Linked DNA regions of Homo sapiens. The protein of the gene in region 1 interacts with the protein of each later gene in a pairwise test. Each region holds a gene or a part of one and is shown on either strand. Other genes may lie near its edges. The genes, in order: NUDT1, RNF11, LAMP2, CASP6, HIP1, HMOX2 and HTT.

Region 1 (3,210 bases):
CACATCCCCAGCTTGTGGCACTGAGCATGTGTGTCTCTGCCCTGGGCCAGCTGCCCACCTCGGGGACAGAGTCTCCATCCTCTCCCACCTCTGTGCAGCAGTGCGGGCTGAAGCCCAGCACATCTGGTAGCTTCCTGTGGACGGGACCTGGCAGGCTGTGCTGGTGTCTGGAGAAGAACGTTTGAAAGGTTAGAGACCGGCCGGGTGCAGTGGCTCACGCCTGGAATCCCAGCACTTTGGGAGGCTGAGGCAGGTGGATCACCTGAGGTCAGGAGTTCAAGACCAGCCTGGTCAACATGGTGAAACCCCATCTCTACTAAACAGACAAATATTAGTTGGGTGTGGCAATGTGCGCCTGTAATCCCACCTCTTCGGGAGGCTGAGATGGGAGGATCGCTTGAACCTGGGAGGCGGAGGTTGACGTGAGCCGAGATCGTGCCATTGCACTCCAGCCTGGGCAACAGAGAGAGACTCCATCTCCAAAAAAAAAAAAAAAAAACCACCGCTAGATAGCTTTATTTTCCCTTCCATCCAGTTAATTCCAGATGAAACCCGGCTCTGCGCCACTCAATGCCCCCAGGTGAAGATGGTTTGCGGCTGTTCAGCAGCCACGTCTCCTGCCCAGGGGCTGCCCTGGGCTCCCGCTAGACCGTGTCCACCTCGCGGAGTGTGTAGTCCAGGATGGTGTCCTGACCCTGGAACTTGAAGTACCCGTGGAATTTCTTCTTCTGAAGCAGGAGTGGAAACCAGTAGCTGTCGTCGGGCCACATGTCCTTGAAGGGGATCTGATCCAGCTGGAACCAGCATGGGCGCATTTCTGTACCAATGGGGGAAGAGGAGGCACTGAGGTGCAACCCAAACTTCATGCTTAAAAAACATGTTTTTTTTGGCCGGGCGCGGTGGCTCACGCCTGTAATCCCAGCACTTTGGGAGGCCGAGGCGGGAGGATCACGAGGTCAGGAGATCGAGACCATCCTGGCTAACACGGTGAAACCCCGTCTCTACTAAAAATACAAAAAAATTAGCCGGGCGTGGTGGCGGGCGCCTGTAGTCCCAGCTACTTGGGAGGCTGAGGCAGGAGAATGGTGTGAACCTGGGAGGTGGAGCTTGCAGTGAGCCGAGATTGCGCCATTGCCCTCCAGCCTGGGCGACAGAGCGAGACTTCGTCTCAAAACAACAACAGCAACAACAACAAAACCATGTTTTTTTGTAGAGATGGGGTCTCACTGTGTTGCCCAGACTGGTCTTGAACTCCTGGGCTCAACGATCCTCCTGCCTCGGCCTCCCACAGTCCACAGTGCTGGGATTACAGGGGTGAGCCACTGCGTCTGGCCAGCCCAAACGTACACTGACTCTCTGAGGAGTTCACTGAGTGATCGTGAGGAACCTGACGATCGTTTATATTTCATCCTCATTACCGTGTTTCTCATTTTAGGGTGGGCGCAGAGCAGGGGCAGGTACGCTACTGGAGCCTCGGTGCAGAGACCACGGCTCATGGGCCCCACGCTGGCACTGTGGGGTGGAGGGGGACGCAGGCTGCCCGGTCCCTGGCACTCAGAGATGGTTTGGGCGGATGGCCTTTCTCCCAGCCAGGAGATGGGACCCGCATAGTGGGGAGGGGGAGCAGGCCCTGTGAGACTCACCGTCGCTCTCCACGGGGGTCCCCTGGATGCTGTCTGTGCAGAAGACATGCACGTCCATGAGCTCAGGCTCGCCCACGAACTCAAACACGATCTGGCCCACCTTGTGCAGGGCGTCCACTGTCAGACCGCTCTCCTCCTGCAGCTCCCTGCGGGCAGAGGTGGGCAGGGGAGGGAGGCCGTCAGGGCATGGTGCCATGCCCACACGATGGCAGGGAGGAGGAGCTGGGCATCTACACACAGCCCAGGGAGCCACCAGGGTGGATGGGAGACCCAGGAGGATGTCCCCTAGAATGCATTATCTGGTCCCGACCTGGCTGAGCTTCAGAATCAACTTGAACTTTGAAGACACTGATTTTGGTTGAGAGGCTCTGGGGAGGGGCCCGGAGATGGTGTGGAGCCTCTGGTGGGAGGAACGCAGTTCTAGCCCAGTGCCCTCTGTGTACCAGTGACAGCCCAGGCCCAGTGGAGTCCAGCCACTTGTCCACCGTCTCGAGACCCGCACGTGGCAGGGTTGGGACTGACCCCACTTCCTTCATTCCCGGTTACTTGCTTTTCCGCGGCTGAGCATCAGAGCCCATGCAGCGGTAGTTACGACCGCCGGGGCCCTGGGACGCTTGCTCTGGGAACCTGGGCCCTATACTCTGGGCCTGTCTGCCCAAAGAAATGTCTTTCCAGCCTGGTGCCTCTTCTCTGAGAACACAGGATGAAACCACAGGCTTCTATGATCTGTTTCCTGAAGGAGGAGCTCTGGTTTTAACTCTGGTCCCCAGGCTGACCACACGGGACACGTGGCCTGGGCCTCTTCCTGCGCCTTCTCGGGACATGCTCCCCACAGCTGTGCCTGGAGGAGGTGTAAGGGGCTGACTTCACCACGGGATGCCCAAGTGCTGCTGCGCCTGGGAACAAGCCCTTCCCTGCTTCGTGGCACACAGAGCCAGGTTTCCCCGAAGTAGTCTAACGCTGTTGCTAATTTAAAAATTACATATTTGTTATAGACAACCAGGAAACAAAACGCCATAAACTCATCACCCAGGAATGCTACCATTTCAGTGTTTTTCCTTTGGCTCTTTCTCCTCTGTTTTTCCCTTAAGAAATGCAAACATTAACCCTTAATAGCTTAAAGTTAAAAAATAAAAATGCAAACAGGTTGGGTGCAGGGTGGCTCATGCCTGTAATCCCAGCATTTTTGGAGGCCAAGGTGGGAGGATTGATTGCTTGAGCTCCGGAGTTTGAGACCAGCTTGGGCAATATGGCAAAACCCTGTTTCTACAAAAAGGACAGAAATTAGCTGGGCATGGTGGCACTCGCCTGTAGTCCCAGCTCCTCAGGAGACTGAGATGGGAGGAATGCTTGAGCCCAGGAGTTGGAGGCTGCAGTGAGCTGGGATTACTCCACTGCACTCCAGCCTGGGCAACCGAGCTAGACCCTGTCTTAAAAAAAAAAAAAAAAAAAAAAGCAAACATCATACACACTTTATACCTCGGGCTTTCCACGCAAGAAAGGAGGAGTGCATGACATTCCACACCTCAAGGAACCCAGCCGCCTTCTCAACTCCTGTTTGGTATGG
Region 2 (3,337 bases), on another chromosome or scaffold:
TGCTGTAAGTTAAAGCTCTCTTCATTAACACTAACTTTCTCTTATTTTACTTTATTTTACTTTTTGAGACAGAGTTTCAAGTGATTCTCCCACCTCAGCCTCCCAAGTGGTTGGGATTACAGGCGCGTGCCACCATGCCTGGCTAATTTTCGTATTTTCAGTAGAGATGAGGTTTCACCATGTTGGCCAGGTTGGTCTCGAACTCCTGGCCTCAAGTGATCCCCCGACCTCAGCCTCCCAAAGTGCTGGGATTACAGGCATAAGCCACTGTGCTCGGCCTGTGAAAATTCTTAATTACTACATAACATTCTCTTGCTAGTAGCCAGTAATAGAGCTATGAAAAAAAATTAAACATTCTCTTGCATTAAGCGAAGTGTTTCAATATATTAAATGTCTGACTTTCTAAAGTGCAGGAGAAAAGGCAAATTTTTCAAAAGCAATCTGAAAATAAAACTTTGAAATGTACAAATTAATTAAAACTTACTCCCGGATCTTTTTTTCTGATCCATCTCTTCCAGGGTCATAAACTCCTTTAGGCAGATGTTGTATAAGACCTATTCTTTGAGCTATCCTAATTTGTTCCTCTTCAGTCAGCTGAGTTGCTAGCCGAGTCTGGCTAGGTGTTGGGTGGTAGACTGGAACTGGAACTTGTTCCTAAAATATTAAAATATAGAGGAAAAAGATTATTTTTTAAAAACCTTTCGAGGGCTTATTTTTTGGTCAGAGATAGAAGGGAAAGGGAGCCCTGGGAGGGGTAGGAAGCTGGGCTAGTGTTTGGCTGTATGACTGTGTTTCACCCTGCCTTAACTTCAGCTACTAGAATAAAACATACACACACCAAAACATTCTCATTCTGCCTAAAGGATATAAACACAGACTTCACTGAACTGGCATGGAATGTTAAATGAACTATTTCCACATGATAAGAGACCAGCCTGGACAACATAGCAAGACCTCATCTCTAAAAATAATTTTTAAAACTTTTTAAATGGACTGGACTATGGCAAAAATAAATCTAAAAGTTATCTAAGACTAACTTTCCCATTTCATAGGACCAAGCTTGCCTACAGTCACTAATTGACAATACTGAAATTAGAATTCTGCTGCTCCTAATCCAACTGATTTTTTACACAACAAAACAATTCAAAGGAATCGTGTGTATAACCCCCACCTTTTTTTGAGATAGGGTCTCCCTCTGTTGCCCAGGCTTAAGTGCAGTGGCACAAACACAACTTACTGTAAACTCAACCCCCTGGGCTCAAGCAATCCTCCAACCTCAGCCTCCTGAGTAGTGGGGCCACAGGGTTGAGCCATGGTGCCTGGCCTATAATAATATTTAAAACTGAGCAACTCTGATGGAATGAAGCTGGGATGGAGTGTGGCCTAGAAGGGATGAGGCTCCCCATCCCCAAGCCCTCACCTTGGTTACCTTTGCAGAATCCTCAGAATCAACAGAGCAGTCTGAAAAACACTACTATCTCAGAAGATGAGATTTTCAGTCTGAAGAATTAAATTATAAGATTTCAGTCTCAGCTCGGCTACTTACTGTGATTGCTTGGACCAAGTCTCTTAATGTCTTTGAATAAAGCAGATAACAGTACCCACTTTAAAGAGTTGATATAATCATGAGATAACTAAGAGCTTTGTAAATGCCAATATTTGTAAATTATTCTAACATCTCCCCAACGTCATGATTCTCCCCATCATGATTCTCTGCTTTGCAGACTTTAAGCTAAGTGCTACTGTCCTTGGCTTTGGTCCTGGCTTTCTGGCTTCTCTTTGAATACTACAAACTCTTGGACTCTGTTGTGATCTCTGCCAGCTCTGAGTTCTTCAACCCTTGAATTACCATTTCCAGTCTAAATTACCTTCCTGAATCTTAGCCTCAGTCCTAGTTGACCAGTTTTGATGAGCTGTCATCCACACGCAAACTGGGAACAAATTGGTTTAAGACTAAGATAATATAAAGGGTCTCTTAAATCCTTGAACCTAACAAACAAAAATAACTAAATTGTTTTAGAGAAAATAAACTCCAACTATGGGTTTTTCAGAGGCTAGATTTCTTCAGTCTTGTGGTTCACATACGTGTAGAGAACACAGAAAGCAGAACAGAAAAGGAAAGTTCTACTTTACGGGGAAACATTAATAAACATTAAAGAAGAAAATAAAAACTATATTTTAATTCACGTTATGAGTGTATTTTCTCCTTTGGTATTTTTTTGTTAAAACAAAGGAACCCTCTCTATATCTTTTAGATATTTAAAATGATTGAACAATCTAATTTCAGTTTACATGGTTCAGAAAACCATAGAGGAAAGGAAATGACTAAGACCTCCTGATATTTTAAAGATGAATGTGGCCTCACCCTTCTTACCACACATGCCTAATTTTAAATTTTAATTCCCATGATACTTGTTTTAAAATGGCTTGATATCTGAGTTATCAATTGTTTCATAACTAGACAGCCACTGATTTTCTAGGCAGCAAAATGGAATCCTGATTCAATTGTTGGCTAACAGACACTGAGTGAGTAGAAGATTAGACAGGGGTATAAAAACAACAATTTTAAAAGATGTGATGGCTGGGCATGGTAGCTCATGCGTGTAATCCCAGAACTTTGAAAGGCCGAGGCAGGCGTATCACCTGAGGTCAGGAGTTCGAGACCAGCCTGGCCAACATGGTAAAACACCATCTCTACTAAAAATACTAAAATTAGCTGGGCGTGGTGGTGCACGCCTGTAATCCCAGCTACTCAGTAAGCTGAGGCAAGAGAACTGCTTTAACCCGGGAGGCAGAGGTTGCAGTGAGCCAAGATCTTGCCACTGTACTCTAGCCTGGGCAACAGAGAGAGACTCCATCTTAACAACAAAAAAAGATATGGATTTGGGGGTGGTTCCCACCATTCCCTATCTGCGAACACTATATGGTTTATGTTCAACACCTGCTTCCCCTCTGAGAATCAGGAATTTTGTCATATGCTAGGCAGTGGGTGCCTAATCAGTACCTGGGGCACTGAGTCTCCAAATGAGCTTCTCTGGCAGAAAACCTTTCATATATGTTGAAGGAATTAAGCATGTCCTGTGTGACTCCACTAGGAGATAACTCTTGGAAGCTTGTGCTTAGTTCCCTTTAGACCAAAGCACCTTTCCCCTTAGCTGATTTTGCTTTGATTCTTTGCTGTAACAAATCATAGATGTGAGTAAGATTATATACTAAGTCCTAAGAGCCCTCCTATTGAATCACCAAACCTGGGGACTGTTTTGAGGACCTCCAACGCCAGTGCTAGGTTGTGCTCCCACTTTATATTTGCAAAGCTACTGTGTTTCGTCCCCAGCTG
Region 3 (2,825 bases), on another chromosome or scaffold:
TAGTGTTTGTTTGTTTTTTTCAATTAGAAGTTACGTTTCCATTGGCTAAAAGCCAGGACATGCTGTGCAATAGATTGTTTAAGATATGCAGACTAACTTCAGTGAGTTCCTAGCTAACTTGGGCATGAGTACACTTATTTAAGACAAAATATATTAGGACCAATTTTTTTCTGTTTTTTTTCTTCCTTTGTTAAAGTATAATTAAAAGAAAAATTGTGGCTTAGAATTTTTTAAGTAAATAATGATTTTAAGCCCCTGGATCCAATTATGAAAGCATTTTTGCTGATGTGTAATTTTATATGTTACAGTTACTTATATTTTACTACTTTGATGTTATTTGCAAAATCAAAGGTGTTAAAGAATTTAACTTGCTTCAGGAAATAAATTCAAGAACATAGTGGATTCATTTTCATTGGTGGCAGACACGAAATTTGGTTCATGATAAGACTTCCTTTCCCCACCTCCTGATCAGCATTATTTAAATCTGTATTTTTCTGTTAGTTAAGAAAGAAATGGCTTCATGATATTGTATTTAATAGCAAAAGTTTGGCTGTCTTCTTCATTACTGTTAATAGCTACTATATTTTAACAAGGAGATTTCTTTTTTTGTTGTTGTTGTTCTAGAGTTTGGAATATACTGATTATCTCAGACTTGACATTTATACTGAAGGATGAAGTAAGACCTCCAGCTTTTTTTAAAAAAGGTGTTGATTTGGAACACCTGTATGGGTTATGGTTTATTAAGGTTATGGTTTAGAAAGTTTTTTTCCCTCAGAGCCTTAACTTGTTAAGAAGGTTCATTTATCCTGCACTGAAAACAAAAACTCTATATACTTTGTTTGTGTGCCTCCTGCACTCTCCCATTCCCTATGTGAATATGCTCTAGTTGATATTTTTAATATATTGATTTCTTTTTTCTCACAGCAACAAGTGCTTACTCTAGAGGTTAGTGGGCCCTGATATGTCATCAGTCAGATGCCTGCCTAGCCAAAGCTGGACTAAGATTATTCTGTACATTTGTTGATCTTGATATAGACTTATATCCCTGTAGGGACTGCTAATGGCTCCGGCTTCTGGAGTAAGGTACTGGAGACCACTCATCCCTGTGTCTGCTTGATTGGTTCAGCTGTTGAATTGCCCTTTTATTTGGAAGCAGTGTTGAAGTTGTCTAGGGTTCAAATGGCTGCTTTGTACACCTGTCATTAGTATAAGGCAGATGTTTATTTTATCAAGCTATTTTATCTCTACATTTAACTAAAAACAAAAGTTCCCAAAGATCTGCCTTCACTTCAGAAATTTTTTTTGGATTAAAAAAATTAAGCCTGAACCTTAAATAAAGTGAGTTGGTTATTCATTCCAAGGATTAAGTCCCAATCTACCTCTCAGCACAATGCAGAAGCTCACCACTGTATTGCTGCCATTAACTCATGCCAGAACCCTTTGCCAATAACTGGAATTACAAATTTTTGTTAAAGAAAATTTATCAAGATCTTTCTTTACTGCCTTCTCTATATGTACATCTCAAAAACATGTACATCTCAAAAACTGGAGTAGAAAGTTAGATTGCTCAACTACAACTCCTCTAGAACTCTATAGCTCTGACATACAGATTCACACTCTCCTCTATTTGCTAAGTATGTAAAGAATGTTTTCTTTTAAAATGTTCTCTTTTGAGAACAACTGCTTATTTGTTATAAAAGCATTTGGTTAAAATGATGTCATCATAAAAAACAGTGGCTTTGTTTCAATACATATTTTTGAGATGATTATCTAGAAGCCAGATTAATAAAATCAGCTTGTGACCTTGCTAAGCATATAAACTGGAAATTCAGATACATTCAAAATTATGGGTTCATTTAAAAGTGTTCTACCTTTTGGGTATGAGACTAATATCACTAATTCCTCAATAGTTATCATGGCTCTATCTTAATTAATTAGAAAATATGTGTGTTTAATTCTTTGAGAATTAAAATAGAGAATATTAACAGAGGGTTAAAAACTGCTTCAACTCCAATAAGATAAAGGAAGCTCAAAATCTATGAGCTGAGTGTTCAATTAGCTTTGCCTACTGAGTTCAATTTTATGTCAATACAACAGTGGATCAGACAGTACGACTTTGAACTGGTGAATGTAAACAATTGTTTTTCACCTAAGCTGCTTTGGAAGAACTGATGCTTGCTGCTAACTAAAGTTTTGGATGTATCGATTTAGAGAACCAATTAATACCTGCAAAATAAAGCATACTGTGGTACTTCTGTTTGATCTAGTATGTGTGATTTTAGATTGATGGATTAAAAATTAATAAAGATCATACATTCCATACCACTATGGATAACCTCATTTTTATTCCATATGCTCAGCCTTAAGAGCTTAGACTTAATTGTATAATCTAAGTTTCTTGAATTCTAGTCTCTTGGATTGTCAACAGGAATCATAGGATCTCATAGATCTGCAACTTAACCAAGTCCCGTCATTAGGAAGGCACTAGTACAGAACCTTTAGTACAGACACCTCAAATAGGGGGACCTACTTAGTCATGGAAATTACAAGAAAACATCAAAAACAAAATATGGAAATCTAACAAATGTAAGAACATCATAACAAACGTACTTTCCGCGTATGTCTGTCTGCATTGATGAACTATACTAATTGTTGAAGTTCATTTCATTCTGAGTGAGATATACCTCAGGGATATGGTGGGGCAAGGGGAGGAGCTATCCATTTTGTGAATTTCCTTTAAATTCCTTACAATCTAGTCTAATGCTTAATTTTTATATAATTGGATAAAACAACAACACATACATAAACATACTCCTTTTTACATG
Region 4 (2,659 bases), on another chromosome or scaffold:
TTTGATTGGTTTGGGTCAGATCTTTCGGTTGGGACATGGTGATTCCATCCTGAAGCTCACAGACTTAGAATTTCTTTGACCACATGGCACAGAGTGATAAATGAAAGTGTAAAGTACCTTACAGAAAAATAATTCCTGAGAGTTATGTTGAGTAAAGCAACAGTCTAATTAATTATATTAGTATTAGCAGCCTACCATCAGTTACTGAGGGTGGTAGTGCCATTGTGGTAATTGTCATGGAAAGCTTTAATTTTTTTTTTTTTTGAGACAAGGTCTCAACTCTGTCACTGAGGCTGAAGTGCAATGGCATGATCATGGCTCACTGCAGCCTCAATTTCTCAGGCTCAAGCAATCCTCCCACCTCAGCCCCCCTGTAGCTGGGACTATAGGCATGCACCACCATGCTTGGCTAACTTTTTAATTTTTCGGTAGAGATTGGGTCTTGCTATGTTGCCCAGGCTGGTCTCAAACAATCCTCCAGCCTTGGCCTCCCAAAGTGCTGGGAGTACAGGTATGAGCCATTGCGTGCGTGCGTGCGTTTTTTTTTTTTATAGTCTCACTCTGTTGCCCAGACGTGTGTGTGTGTGTGTATTTTTTTTTTTTTTTAATAGTCTCACTCTGTTGCCCAGGCGGGAGTGCAGTGGTCCAATGTCAGCTCACTGCAACCTCTGCCTCCTGGGTTCAAGTGATTCTCCTACCTCAGCCTCCCGAGTAGCTGGGAATACAGGTGCCTGCCACCACGCCAAGCTAATTTTTGTAGTTTTAGTAGAGATGGGGTTTCACCATGTTGGCCAGGCTGGTCTCGAACTCCTGACCTCAAGTGATCTGCCTGCCTCAGCCTCCCAAAGTGCTGGGATTATAGGCATGAGCCACCATGCCCAACTGAAAAATATTTTGATAATGGTTCTTTGCTTTTGTAGTAAATAATTTTGACTTCTTTTTAGTAATCTCATGTCTCAATCATTGTCTATCTTGGGAATTTTTTAGGAAATGGAAGAAATTATACAGAATTAACCCCGTGTATATAAAACTATATAGAATTAATCTCTTTTCCCATTTGAAAAGAGTCAAAAAAATTTAAAAGCCATTTATATCATGGACACATCTTAAGACTCTTCTAAGGATTTTTAAGAACTTATACTTCTGTAACTAAAAAGAATACACACAGTAATTGAAAGCCAGAAAACTGCAGCAACATTTTCCTTCTCACTTTTTTAGGATATTATTCTCACCGGGAAACTGTGAACGGCTCATGGTACATTCAAGATTTGTGTGAGATGTTGGGAAAATATGGCTCCTCCTTAGAGTTCACAGAACTCCTCACACTGGTGAACAGGAAAGTTTCTCAGCGCCGAGTGGACTTTTGCAAAGACCCAAGTGCAATTGGAAAGAAGCAGGTTCCCTGTTTTGCCTCAATGCTAACTAAAAAGCTGCATTTCTTTCCAAAATCTAATTAATTAATAGAGGCTATCTAATTTTACACTCTGTATTGAAAATGGCTTTCTCAGCCAGGCGTGGTTACTCACACCTGTAATCCCAGCACTTTGGGAGTCCAAGGTGGGCGGATCACCTGAGGTCGGGAGTTCGAGACCAGCCTGACCAACATGGAGAAGCCCCGTCTCTACTAAAAATGCAAAAAAAAATTTAGCTAGGCATGGCGGCGCATGCCTGCAATCCCAGCTACTTGGAAGGCTGAGGCAGGAGAATCACTTGAACCCAGGAGGTGGAGGCTGCGGTGAGCCGAGATTGCGCCATTGCACTCCAGCCTGGGCAACGAGTGAAACTCCGTCTCAAAAAAAAGAAAATGTCTTTCTCTTCCTTTTATATAAATATCGTTAGGGTGAAGCATTATGGTCTAATGATTCAAATGTTTTAAAGTTTAATGCCTAGCAGAGAACTGCCTTAAAAAAAAAAAAAAAAAGTTCATGTTGGCCATGGTGAAAGGGTTTGATATGGAGAAACAAAATCCTCAGGAAATTAGATAAATAAAAATTTATAAGCATTTGTATTATTTTTTAATAAACTGCAGGGTTACACAAAAATCTAGCTGATTTAACTTGTATTTTGTCACTTTTTTATAAAAGTTTATTGTTTGATGTTTTTAAAGGTTTTTGAAATCCAGGAATTAAATCATCCCTTAATAAAATATTCGAAATTCATATTTTATTACATTTTTCTAACTCACATTCTTGTTCATTTGTGTAATTGATAGATGTTTTTTACTCGGTCATTTAAATGTTTAATATTTCATCTACATATGAATTACCACATTTTGTGTATGACTTTAATTCCTACTTTAAAAAAAATCAGCATTCCAGAATTGTTGTATGGCATTCTGAGGATGAAATAGAAAACATAATTCTTAGCCACTATAGGTTGAACACCTGCAAAATCTGATTCTGTCAGCATCTTCCATGTTAAGTTCCTACAAACAGTCCAACAGTCATCAGACCCATTCACACACAATCACATTAATAGAATAACAGATGTTACTTTCAAGGTTCAATTCTTATTAATATGATATAGAATCTGAATAATACTGTTTTGTTAATAATCTGCCAGAGGCTGAAGAAAGTTAACTGTTTTGGCTTCGATACCTGAAACTTGTGATTTGCAGGTTCAAAAGCAATCGTTTATATACACTGTTTCAGTTGAAGTT
Region 5 (3,500 bases), about 73 Mb from region 1:
AAGCCTGTTGCCCAGGCTAGAGTGCAGTGGTGCGATCATAGCTCACTGCAGCCTCCCACTCCTGGGCTCAAGTGATCCTCCCTGCCTCAGCCTCCTGAGTAGCTGGGACAACGGGCACACACCACTAGGCTCTGCTAACTTTTAAACTTTTTTGTAGAGTCAGAGTCTTGCTTTGTAGCCCAGGCTGTATCAAACTCCTGGCCTCAAGTGATCCTCCCGCTTCGGCCTCCCAAAGTGCTGGGATTTTCAGACATGTGCCACTATGCCTGGCCTGTCTTATTATTATTATTTTTTAATTCCACATAGATGCATCCCTATTAAGTTTGAATGTTTGAGTCTTTATATAAAAGGAATCCTACTGTATATATTTTTCCATGACTTGATTTTTCACTCAACATTCTATGTGTGAGATTCATCCTAATACCTAGTAATTCTGATTCTATGTATATACTCTAGAGAAACTGACATGTGTGCATATATGATCATAGGGGCAAATTAATAACAACCCAAACTGGAAATAACCCAAGTGTCCATCACCAAGAGAACAGACGGATGAATTAAGCGATATTCACACAATAGATAATGAGAGAGCAGTGAAAATGAATTTATCTTCTTGGATTAATCTCACAGAATGTGGAGTGAAAAAGCCAGTTGTAGAAGAATATATACAGTAGGACTCCATTTACCTGTAGTCTATATCATGTGAAACTAACTCTATTATTTAGGGAGGCAAAGATGTAGATGATAATTTTTTTTTTTTTTTTTTTTTTTTTTGAGGCAGTGTCTCACTCTGTCGCCCAGGCTGGAGTGCAGTGGTGCAATCTCGGCTCACTGCAGCCTCCGCCTCCCAGGCTCAAAGGATTATCCTGCCTCAGCCTCTCAAGTAGCTGGGATTACAGGTATGTGCTGGGATTACAAAATTAGCCACCACAACTGGCTAATTTTGTATTTTTAATAGAGATGGAGTTTCACTATATTGGCCAGGCTGGTCTCAAACTCCTGGCCTCAAGTGATCCACCCACCTCAGCCTCCCAAAGTGCTGGGATTACAGGCGTGAGCCACCACACCTGGCCCTGATCTTTTTATTTTTTCTTTTTAGAGACAGGGTCTTACTCTCTCACCCAGGCTGGAGTACAGTGGTTCACTGCAGGTGAACCACTCTGCAGAGTACACTCTGCAATTCACTGCAGAGTACACGGTTCACTGCAGTCTTGAGCTCCCAGGCTTAGGTGATCCTCCTGCCTCAGCCTCCTGAGTAGCTGGGACCAAAAGTGCTCACCATCACACCCGGCCAATTTTTAAATTTGTTGTAGAGACAGGGCGCCACTAAGTTGCCCAGGCTGGTCTCAAATTCCTGGCCTCAATTGATCCACCCACCTTGGCTGGATGTGGTCTTTTTATTATCTTCTTCTGGAACTCCAATTAGACAGTCTATCCTCATGGCTTTTATTTTTTATTTATTTTTTGAGTGGAGTTTCGCTCCTGTTGCCCAGGTTGGAGTGCAAAGGCACGATCTTAGCTCACTGCAACCTCAGCCTCCCAGGTTCAAGTGATTCTCCTGCCTCAGCCTCCTAAGTAGCTGGGATTACAGGCGCCTACCATCACGCCTGGCTAATTTTTTGTACTTTTAGTAGAGATGGGGTTTTGCCATGTTGGCCAGGCTGGTCTAGAACTCCTGACCTCAGGTGATCCACCTGCCTCGGCCTCCCAAAATGTTGGGATTACAGGCGTGAGCCACCGTGCCTGGCCCTATCCTTGTATCTTAACCAATATATTCCAATTCATAACACTGGGGAAAAAATGAAAAAAAACTGTACTGCATAGAAATGGTTTTCTTATTTTTCTTTTCCATAGAGTCCATGTCTTCTCTGTCCCTATATATACTTAACCCAATTTCTGGTATACAGGACATATTTATTTATAGCAGAGGCAGGGTCTCACTCTGTTGCCTAGGCTGGAGTGCAGTGGCACAATCATAGCTCACTGTGGCCTCCAAATCCTGGGCTCAAGCGATCCTCCTGCCTCAGCCTCCCGAGTAGCTGGGACTACAGGTGCGTGACATCACACCTGTCTAATTAAAAAAAAAATTTTATTTTGTAGAGACAGGGTCTCACTATGTTGCCTAGGCTGATATTGAACTCCTGGCCTCAAGTGATCCTCCTGCCTCGGCCTCCCAAAGTGCAGGGATTACAGGTGTGAGCCACCATGCTCGGCACTACATCTTTAGTAAATGAATGAACACAGTGTTATTTCCATTTTGGGTATTACCTGCCCACCTAGATAAAAATCCTCAGAGACAGGGGAGCTGCCTATACTTCTTTGATATTGCCTAGTGTAATGATGACAACATAGTAGATTCTCAGCTAACAGCCAGTGAATTAAATATAGCTGGAAAGTCCTTCAGGAGGTTTTTCCTTTTTAAATTTTTTTTTTTTTAATTTTTAAAGAGACAGGGTCTCATTTTGTTGCCTAGGCCTGTCTCAAACTTCTGGGATCAAGTGATCCTTTTTTTTTTCGAGATAGATCTCACTCTTATGCCCAGGCTGGAGTGCAATGGCATGATCTCGGTGCACTGCAACCTCCACCTCCTGGGTTCAAGCAATTCTCTTGACTCCACCTCCCAGTACCTGGGATTATAGGCATGCACCACTATGCTGGGTTGATTTTTGTATTTTTAGTAGAGACAGGGTTTCACCCTGTTGGCCAGGCTGGTCTCTAGCTCTTGACCTCAAGTGATCTGCCCACCTCAGCCTCCCAAAGTGCTGGGATTACAGGCGTGAGCCATCCCGTCTAGCCTCAAGTGATCCTCCTGACTCGGCCTCCCAAAGTGCTGGGATTACACGCATAAATCACTGCACCCGGCCAGATTTTCCAATTTTAACAATCTCTTTCTAGAATCAAGTTCTAAGTGCAGAAAGAACTAGCTCAGAACATCACCGATTCCCTGGCCATTCACCAGCACGCACACCCAGAAGAATAACAATGCTCCTCAATGATACTACTCCAAGTACCTCGCCGATGGCCTTGATCTTGCTCAGGCAGTTCCTCATGGCTGTGCTGTCGGCATTCTCAAGGCTTCCCTCTTCCTCCAGGGAGGCCAGGTAGGCGAGGGTTTCCCTGCCATACTGCTTACAGGCCTCGGTCAGTGCTGGAGATACAAGGCAATAGACACTTTTTTTTTGAGATGGAGTCTCGCTCTTGTTGCCCAGGCTGGAGTGCAGTGGCGCCATCTCGGCTCACTGCAAACTCCGCCTCCTGAGTTCAAGCGATTCTCCTGCCTCGGCCTCCCAAGTAGCTGGGATTACGGGTGCGCCACCATGCCCGGCTAATTTTTGTATTTTTAGTAGAGACGGGGTTTCGCCATGTTGGCCAGGCTGGTCTCGAACTCCTGACCTCAGGTGATCTGCCCACCTCGTCCTCCCAAAGTGTTACGGCGATTACAGGCGTGAACCATTGCATCTGGCCCATCGTTTTTGTATCTTTAGTAGAGATGGGGTTTT
Region 6 (3,500 bases), on another chromosome or scaffold:
CCAGTTAAGTTGCTGTGGCCTCAGCAGTCCTCTCCTAGGAACCAGATTAGACCACTGCCTACACATGGGGACACGCTGTCCTTTGGACAAGTACTCAGGCAAGTCCCTTGACAGTTGGTGTTTGGTAAAAGGCTGTTTGTTTACAAAGGAATGTCCTAGGGTTTCTGTCTTTAATCTACTCAAATACTTCCTTTTTTGAACACAATTTGTGTTTGAAGACACAAATTAAGAGATGTGTACTTTTGAAGATGGGAAGAAAGGGTACTTGTCAGAACAATCCTTATCCTTTTTTGGTTGCAAATCCCTTTCAGAATCAGAGCAAGGCTTCAGATTCTCTCTCCAGGACAATCGTATGGTTTAAAAATGTTGCCTGTGGCCAGGCATGGTGGCTCAAGCCTGTAATCCCAGCACTTTGGGAGGCTGAGGTGGGTGGATCACCTGAGGTCAGGAGTTCGAGACCAGCCTGGCCAACATGGTGAAACCTTGTCTCTACTAAAAATGCAAAAATTAGCCGGGCGTGGTGGCAGGTGCCTTAATCCCAGCTACCTGGGAGGCAGAGGTAGGAGAATTGTTTGAACCCGGGAGGCAGAGGTTGCAGTGAGCCGAGATCAAGCCATTGCACTCAAGCCTGGGGGACAAGAGCGAGACTTCTCTCAAAAACAAAAACAAAAATAAAAACAAAAACAAAAACAAAAAAATCAATCCCTGTTCTAAAAGGAGTCTATCAGTGACATTCTCTTTTTATGGGTAAAGTTTTCAGTAAGACCCTGAGTGCTCTAAGAAGGGTTTCTTCTTTCTTTGGCCTCCTTCCTTCTCTTCCCTTCCTCCTCTGTCCTAATGGGTTCAGTACAAGTTCTCCCATTTTCTCCATTTCTCCACTCTTTAACTTCCCTGGCCTCTCAAAACTCTCATAAACCTTACAAAGTGATTTTACTGTTTTGTGTCTTCCCACAGTTACTACCAGCTCCTAGTAAACAAAGACTATGCTTGGTTTGTTGTTGTATTTGCACATCCCCTCAGTGCCAATACTCTGCATACCTTAGAAGCTCAATACAGTACAGTCAGCCCTCCATATCCATGGGCTCTGCATCAGTGGATTCAACCAACCTCAGATTAAAAATATTCAGAAAAAGGCCTGACATGGTGGCTCACCCCTGTAATCATAGCACTTTGGGACGTGGAGGTGGGTGAATCACTTAAGGTCAGGAGTTCGAGATCAGCCTGGCCAACATGGTGAAACCCGGAATCTGCTAAAAATATAAAAATTAGCCGGGGGTTGTGGCAGGCACCTGTAATCCCAGCTACTCGGGAGGCTAAGGCAAGAGAATCGCTTGAACCCAGGAGGTGGAGGTTGCAGTGAGCCAAGACTGCGCCACTGCACTCCAGCCTCGGTGACAGAGTGAGATGCCGTCTCAATCAACCAATCAATCTTCAGGGAAAAAAAAAACAACAGATGGCTACATATGTACTACACATGTACAGATTTTTTTTCTTGTCATGATTACCTAAACGATACAGTATAACAACTATTTACATAGCACTGTATTGGGTATTATAAATACAGATGATTTAAAGAATACAGAAGATATGCATAGGTTATATGCAAATTCTATACACCATTTTATATAAGAAACTTAAGCTGGGCACAGTGGCTCATGCCTGTAATACCAGCACTTTGGGAGCCCGCGGCAGGCGGCTCACCTGAAGTCAGGAGTTCGAGACCAGCCTGGCCAATATGGTGAAACCTCACCTCTACTAAAAATACAAAAATCAGCCAGGCGTGGTGGTGCACACCTGTAATCCCAGCTACTCGGGAGGCTGAGGCAGGAGAATCATTTGAACCCGGGAGGTGGAGATTGCAGTGAGCCGAAATCGTACCACTGCACTCCAGCCTGGGTGACAGTGCAAGACTCCGTCTCAAAAAAAAAAAAAAAAAAGAAAAGAAAAGAAACTTGAGCATCCTGGATCTTGGTACCCTTGAGGGGTCCTGGAACTAATCTCCACAGATACTGAGGGATAACTATATATACTTCTCAAATGGCCTCATACTACTGTTTCTTGATCCTTCTACCTTTAGGCATTTGGACTTGAATGTGGTGCCTCCTTTAAAATTTGGGCATATGAGGCCGGGTGCAGTGGCTCACGCCTGTAATCCCAGCACTTTGGGAGGCCAAGGTGGGTGGATCATGAGGTCAGGAGATTGAGACCATCTTGGCTAACACGGTGAAACCCCGTCTCTACTAAAAATACAAAAAATTAGCCGGGCATGGTGGCGGGAGCCTGTAGTCCCAGCTACTCGGGAGGCTGAGGCAGGAGAATGGCGTGAACCTGGGAGGCGGAGCCTGCAGTGAGCCGAGATCGCACCACTGCACTCCAGCCTGGGCGACAGAGCAAGACTCCGTCTCAAAAAAAAAAAAAAAAAAATTTTTGGGCATATGCACGGGTGTGATACTGTAATTTAGAAGAAGATACAGAGATAAATTTGAGGCTGGATGCAGCGGCTCATGCCTGTAATCCCAGCACTTCAGGAGGCTGAGGTGGGCAGATCACTTGAGGTCAGGAGTTCAAGACCAGCCTGGTTAATATGGTGAAACCCCGTCTCTACTAAAAATACAAAAATTAACCAGGTATAGTGGCGCACACCTGTAGTCCCACCTACTCGGGAGGCTGAGGCAGGAGAATCGCTTGAATCCGGGAAGCGGAGGTTGCAGTGAGCCGAGATAGCGCCATTGCACTCCAGCCTGGGTGTCGCAGCAAGACTCTGTCTCAAAACACAAACAAACAAAAAGATTTATAGATATATTTGATCTGCACCCTAGGTTCCTGGCACAGAGCTCCTAAAACCTTTGTAGATGGGGGCACTAGGAGAATCCTTCATTCTGATATTGGTCTTTAACCTCAGTTCCTGACACAGAGCTCCTAAAACTTTTGTAATTTCCTAAATCCCTTGGAATTTCCTGGGTAATAGGAGCATCTTTTGTTGTAAGTAAGTAACTCTTGGTGGGCTCCTAGATGGGGGCTGATTGCCTGGGGAACCAACCATGTGATTAGAGGGTGGGAACTTTCAGCCCTACCCCCTTAACCTCAGGGGACGGGAGAAGGTCTAAAGGTTGAGTTGATCACCAGTGGCCAATAACGTATTCAATTATGCCTTTGTAATGAAGCCTCCATAAACACACACACACACACACACACACACACACACACACACACACACACACACACACACACACACACCAGGGTTTGCATTAGCTTCAGGATAGCTGAATACACGAAAGTTCCAGAGAGGGCGTAGAAGCTTCATGCCTCTTCCTACATGCCTCACCCTATACATCTCTTCCATCTGGCTATTCATCTGTATCCTTTTTTTTTCTTCCAGTCTGTCGCCCAGGCTGGATGGAGTGCGGTGGCGTGATCTCATTTCACTGCAACATCTGCCCCCAGGGTCCAAGCGATTTTCCTGCCTCAGCCTCCCTAGTGGCTGGGACTACAGGCATGCA
Region 7 (3,500 bases), on another chromosome or scaffold:
TCGCATCTTAACAATATTGTCTTCCACCTATGAACATGGGCAAACTTTGTGTAAATGGTCAGATTGTAAGTATTTCGGGCTGTGTGGGCACAGTGTCTCTGTCACAGCTACGCGGCTCTGCCATTGTAGCATGAAAGTAGCCATAAGCAATATGTATGAGTGTCTGTGTTCCAATAGAATTTTATTAATGACAAGGAAGTTTGAATTTCATATAATTTTCACCTGTCATGAGATAGTATTTGATTATTTTGGTCAACCATTTAAAAATGTAAAAACATTTCTTAGCTTGTGAACTAGCCAAAAATATGCAGGTTATAGTTTTCCCACTCCTAGGTTAAAATATGATAGGACCACATTTGGAAAGCATTTCTTTTTTTTTTTTTTTTTTTTTTTTTGAGACGGAGTTTCACTCTTGTTGCCCAGGCTGGAGTGCAGTGGCGCGATCTCGGCTCACTGCAACCTCTGCCTCCCAGGTTCAAGACATTCTCCTGCACGGCCTCCCTAGTAGCTGGGATTACAGGCATGCGCCACCACACCCAGCTAATTTTGTATTTTTAGTAGAGACGGGGTTTCTCCATGTTGGTCAGGCTGGTCTTGAACTCCTGACCTCAGGTGATCCACCCGCCTCAGCCTCCCAAAGTGCTGGGATTACAGGGTGTGAGCCACCACACCCTGCTGGAAAGCATTTCTTTTTTGGCTGTTTTTGTTTTTTTTTTAAACTAGTTTTGAAAATTATAAAAGTTACACATATACATTATAAAAATATCTTCAAGCAGCACAGATGAAAAACAAAGCCCTTCTTGCAAGTCTGTCATCTTTGTCTAACTTCCTAAGAACAAAAGTGTTTCTTGTGTCTTCTTCCCAGATTTTAATATGCATATACAAGCATTTAAATGTGTCATTTTTTGTTTGCTTGACTGAGATCACATTACATATGTATTTTTTTACTTAACAATGTGTCATAGATATTGTTCCATAGCAGTACCTGTAATTCTTATTAATTGCTATGTAATATTTTAGAATTTCTTTTTAAAAGAGGACTTTTGGAGATGTAAAGGCAAAGGTCTCACATTTTTGTGGCTGTAGAATGTGCTGGTGACATATTCTCTCTACCTTGAGAAGTCCCCATCCCCATCACCTCCATTTCCTGTAAATAAGTCAACCACTTGATAAACTACCTTTGAATGGATCCACACTCAAAACATTTAGTCTTATTCAGACAACAAGGAGGAAAAATAAAATACCTTATAAAGCACTGTTTAATATTGTATTAAATTGGATCAATTTGGGGGCTAGAATGTATGTTAGAGACATGATATGTCCATAGGTCCTTGCTATCACAGTGAGGTCTCAGGGACAGTCGTTTGGTATCATTTGGGATCTCATAAGCAGACTCTCTCTGCTTGACCTGACAAATCAGAGTCTGTGTTTTAACAGGTTCAGTGAGTGACTTACATGCACATTGGAGTTTGGGAAGCTCCACTGTAGGTGCTTAGACCTTACCTTTGTTGTTGCTAATAACAATGCAAGCATTTGGGAGGAAGACCTGTGTTGCTCATATGTGTCCAGGTGTAGCTGAGGTGGCCTTGCTTATCTGCTGTAGGGCCGTTGAGCATTTCTGTAGCTGTGATGAGTGAGCTGAGGTGAGCCTGCGGAGAGCTCCCAGCCATTGGTAGTGGGACTCGCTTAGATGAACTGGAAGGACCCTTTCATCTGAGCAGCCACTATGGAGAAAAACAACCGAATGAGGGGAGAGACAATGTGCAATTTTATTTAGGGCACAAAGGAGAGCTGTGGTTAGAAGGTGACATTTGAGTGGAAAGGGGGCAAGCCATGTGTATAGCGGGAGAAGAGAGGTCCAGGCAGAGTTAACAGAAGGCAGAAATGCTTTCCATGTTTGAGAACCAGTAAGGAGGCCAGTGGCTGAAGTAAGGTGAAGGGCAGAAATAAGGATGAGGCTGCGAGAGATGAGAGGTTAGAGACGAGCGTCTTGTGCACCAAGATAAGCTTGTGTGGTCAAAACAAGTAGTTTAATTTATGTTTTTAAAAGATCATTTTGGCTGGGCACAATGGTTCATGCCTGTAATACCAGTAGTTTGAGACGGTGTGGTGGGAGGATTGCCTGAGGCCAGACGACCAGCATAGCCAACATAGCAGCACCTATAAGGTCTCTACAAAAAACTTTAAAAAATTAGCTGGGCATAGTGGTGTGTGCCTGTAGTCCCAGCTACTCAGGAGGCTGAGGAGGCTGGAGGATTGCTTGAGTCCAGGAGTTTGAGGCTGCAGTGAGCTATGATTATGCCACTACACTACAACCTGGGCAAGAGAGTGAGACCCTGTCTCTAAATATACACACACACACACACACACACACACACACACACACACACACACACACACACACACATATATATGTATATATATGCATTTAGATGAAAAGATCACTTTGACAATACCACATGCTGGTGAGGATTTAGAAAAACTAGGTCACTTATTGCTGGTGGGAATATAATATAGTACGGCCACTCTGGAAAACAGTTTGGCAGTTTGTCATAAAACTGAACATACCGTTAGTATACAGCCCAGCAGCAACTACAATCCTGGGCATTAATCCTAGAGAAATGAAACCTTAATGTTCACATAAAAACCTATACTCAAGTATGCATAGCAGCTTTACCCATAATATCTAAGAACTGGAATCAGCTCAGATGTCCTTCAACAGGTGAATGGTTAAACTACTCAGTAATAAAAAGGAATGAGCTACTGATAGCATGCAACAGTTTAGGTGAAGTTATGCTAATGAAAAAAGCCAATCCCAAAAGGTTATACATACTGTATGATTCTATGTTTTTTTGCAATGGCACAGTTTTAGGGATGGAGAATAGATTAGTGGTTGCCTGGGGTTAGAGATGGGGTAGTAGAGTAGGTTAGTGGTGGCAGAGGAGAGAAAAGAGAGGGAGGTGAATGTGGTTATAAAAGGACAACACAGGGGAATACTTGTAATGGAAATGCTTTGTCTTTTTTTTTTTTTTTTTTTTTTTGGCGACAGAGTCTTGCTCTGTTGCCCAGGCTGGAGTGCAGTGGCATGATCTTTTCTCACTGCAACCTCTGCCTCCTGGGTTCAAGTGATACTTGTGTCTCAGTCTCCCATGTTCAGAGTGAAACAAACCAGAGGTAATGTTCATCCAAATAATCCAACACACATGACATTAAAACATCAAGATCAGGTCGGACGTGGTGGCTCATGCCTGTAATCCCAGCACTTTTGGGAGGCCAAGGTGGGCAGATCACTTGAGGTCAGGAGTTCGAGACCAGCCGGGCCAACATGATGAAACCCCATCTTGACTAAAAATACAAAAATTAGCCGGGCATGGTGGTGTGCACCTGTAGTCCCAGCTACTTGGGAGGCTGAGGCAAGAGAACTGCTTGAACCCGAGGGGCAGAGGTTGCAGTGAGCTGAGAGTGCGCCATTGCACTTCAGCCTGTGTGACAGAGTAAGA

The links.
Region 2: the proteins of NUDT1 (region 1) and RNF11 interact in binary tests that used the Homo sapiens proteins (3 or more experiments, as listed by UniProt).
Region 3: the proteins of NUDT1 (region 1) and LAMP2 interact in binary tests that used the Homo sapiens proteins (3 or more experiments, as listed by UniProt).
Region 4: the proteins of NUDT1 (region 1) and CASP6 interact in binary tests that used the Homo sapiens proteins (3 or more experiments, as listed by UniProt).
Region 5: the proteins of NUDT1 (region 1) and HIP1 interact in binary tests that used the Homo sapiens proteins (3 or more experiments, as listed by UniProt).
Region 6: the proteins of NUDT1 (region 1) and HMOX2 interact in binary tests that used the Homo sapiens proteins (3 or more experiments, as listed by UniProt).
Region 7: the proteins of NUDT1 (region 1) and HTT interact in binary tests that used the Homo sapiens proteins (3 or more experiments, as listed by UniProt).

What each region holds. Positions count from the first base shown.
Region 1 is NC_000007.14:2,248,436-2,251,645, reverse strand, and holds the end of NUDT1 (oxidized purine nucleoside triphosphate hydrolase), read right to left. Parts: intron 2,336-3,210; exon of another isoform or gene 1,954-2,335; intron 1,790-1,953; coding exon 1,644-1,789; intron 1,005-1,643; coding exon of another isoform or gene 949-1,004; exon of another isoform or gene 911-948; intron 818-910; coding exon 645-817; 3' UTR 501-644; downstream 1-500. UniProt on the Homo sapiens protein: Oxidized purine nucleoside triphosphate hydrolase which is a prominent sanitizer of the oxidized nucleotide pool. Catalyzes the hydrolysis of 2-oxo-dATP (2-hydroxy-dATP) into 2-oxo-dAMP.
Region 2 is NC_000001.11:51,267,273-51,270,609, reverse strand, and holds part of RNF11 (RING finger protein 11), read right to left. Parts: intron 655-3,337; coding exon 485-654; intron 1-484. UniProt on the Homo sapiens protein: Essential component of a ubiquitin-editing protein complex, comprising also TNFAIP3, ITCH and TAX1BP1, that ensures the transient nature of inflammatory signaling pathways. Promotes the association of TNFAIP3 to RIPK1 after TNF stimulation.
Region 3 is NC_000023.11:120,425,648-120,428,472, reverse strand, and holds the end of LAMP2 (lysosome-associated membrane glycoprotein 2 isoform A precursor), read left to right. Parts: 3' UTR 1-2,325; downstream 2,326-2,825. UniProt on the Homo sapiens protein: Lysosomal membrane glycoprotein which plays an important role in lysosome biogenesis, lysosomal pH regulation and autophagy.
Region 4 is NC_000004.12:109,688,128-109,690,786, reverse strand, and holds the end of CASP6 (caspase-6 isoform alpha precursor), read left to right. Parts: intron 1-1,218; coding exon 1,219-1,457; 3' UTR 1,458-2,159; downstream 2,160-2,659.
Region 5 is NC_000007.14:75,550,442-75,553,941, forward strand, and holds part of HIP1 (huntingtin-interacting protein 1), read right to left. Parts: intron 3,149-3,500; coding exon 3,012-3,148; intron 1-3,011. UniProt on the Homo sapiens protein: Plays a role in clathrin-mediated endocytosis and trafficking. Involved in regulating AMPA receptor trafficking in the central nervous system in an NMDA-dependent manner. Regulates presynaptic nerve terminal activity.
Region 6 is NC_000016.10:4,482,898-4,486,397, reverse strand, and holds part of HMOX2 (heme oxygenase 2), read right to left. Parts: intron 2,762-3,500; exon of another isoform or gene 2,644-2,761; intron 1-2,643.
Region 7 is NC_000004.12:3,081,181-3,084,680, forward strand, and holds part of HTT (huntingtin), read left to right. Parts: intron 1-3,500.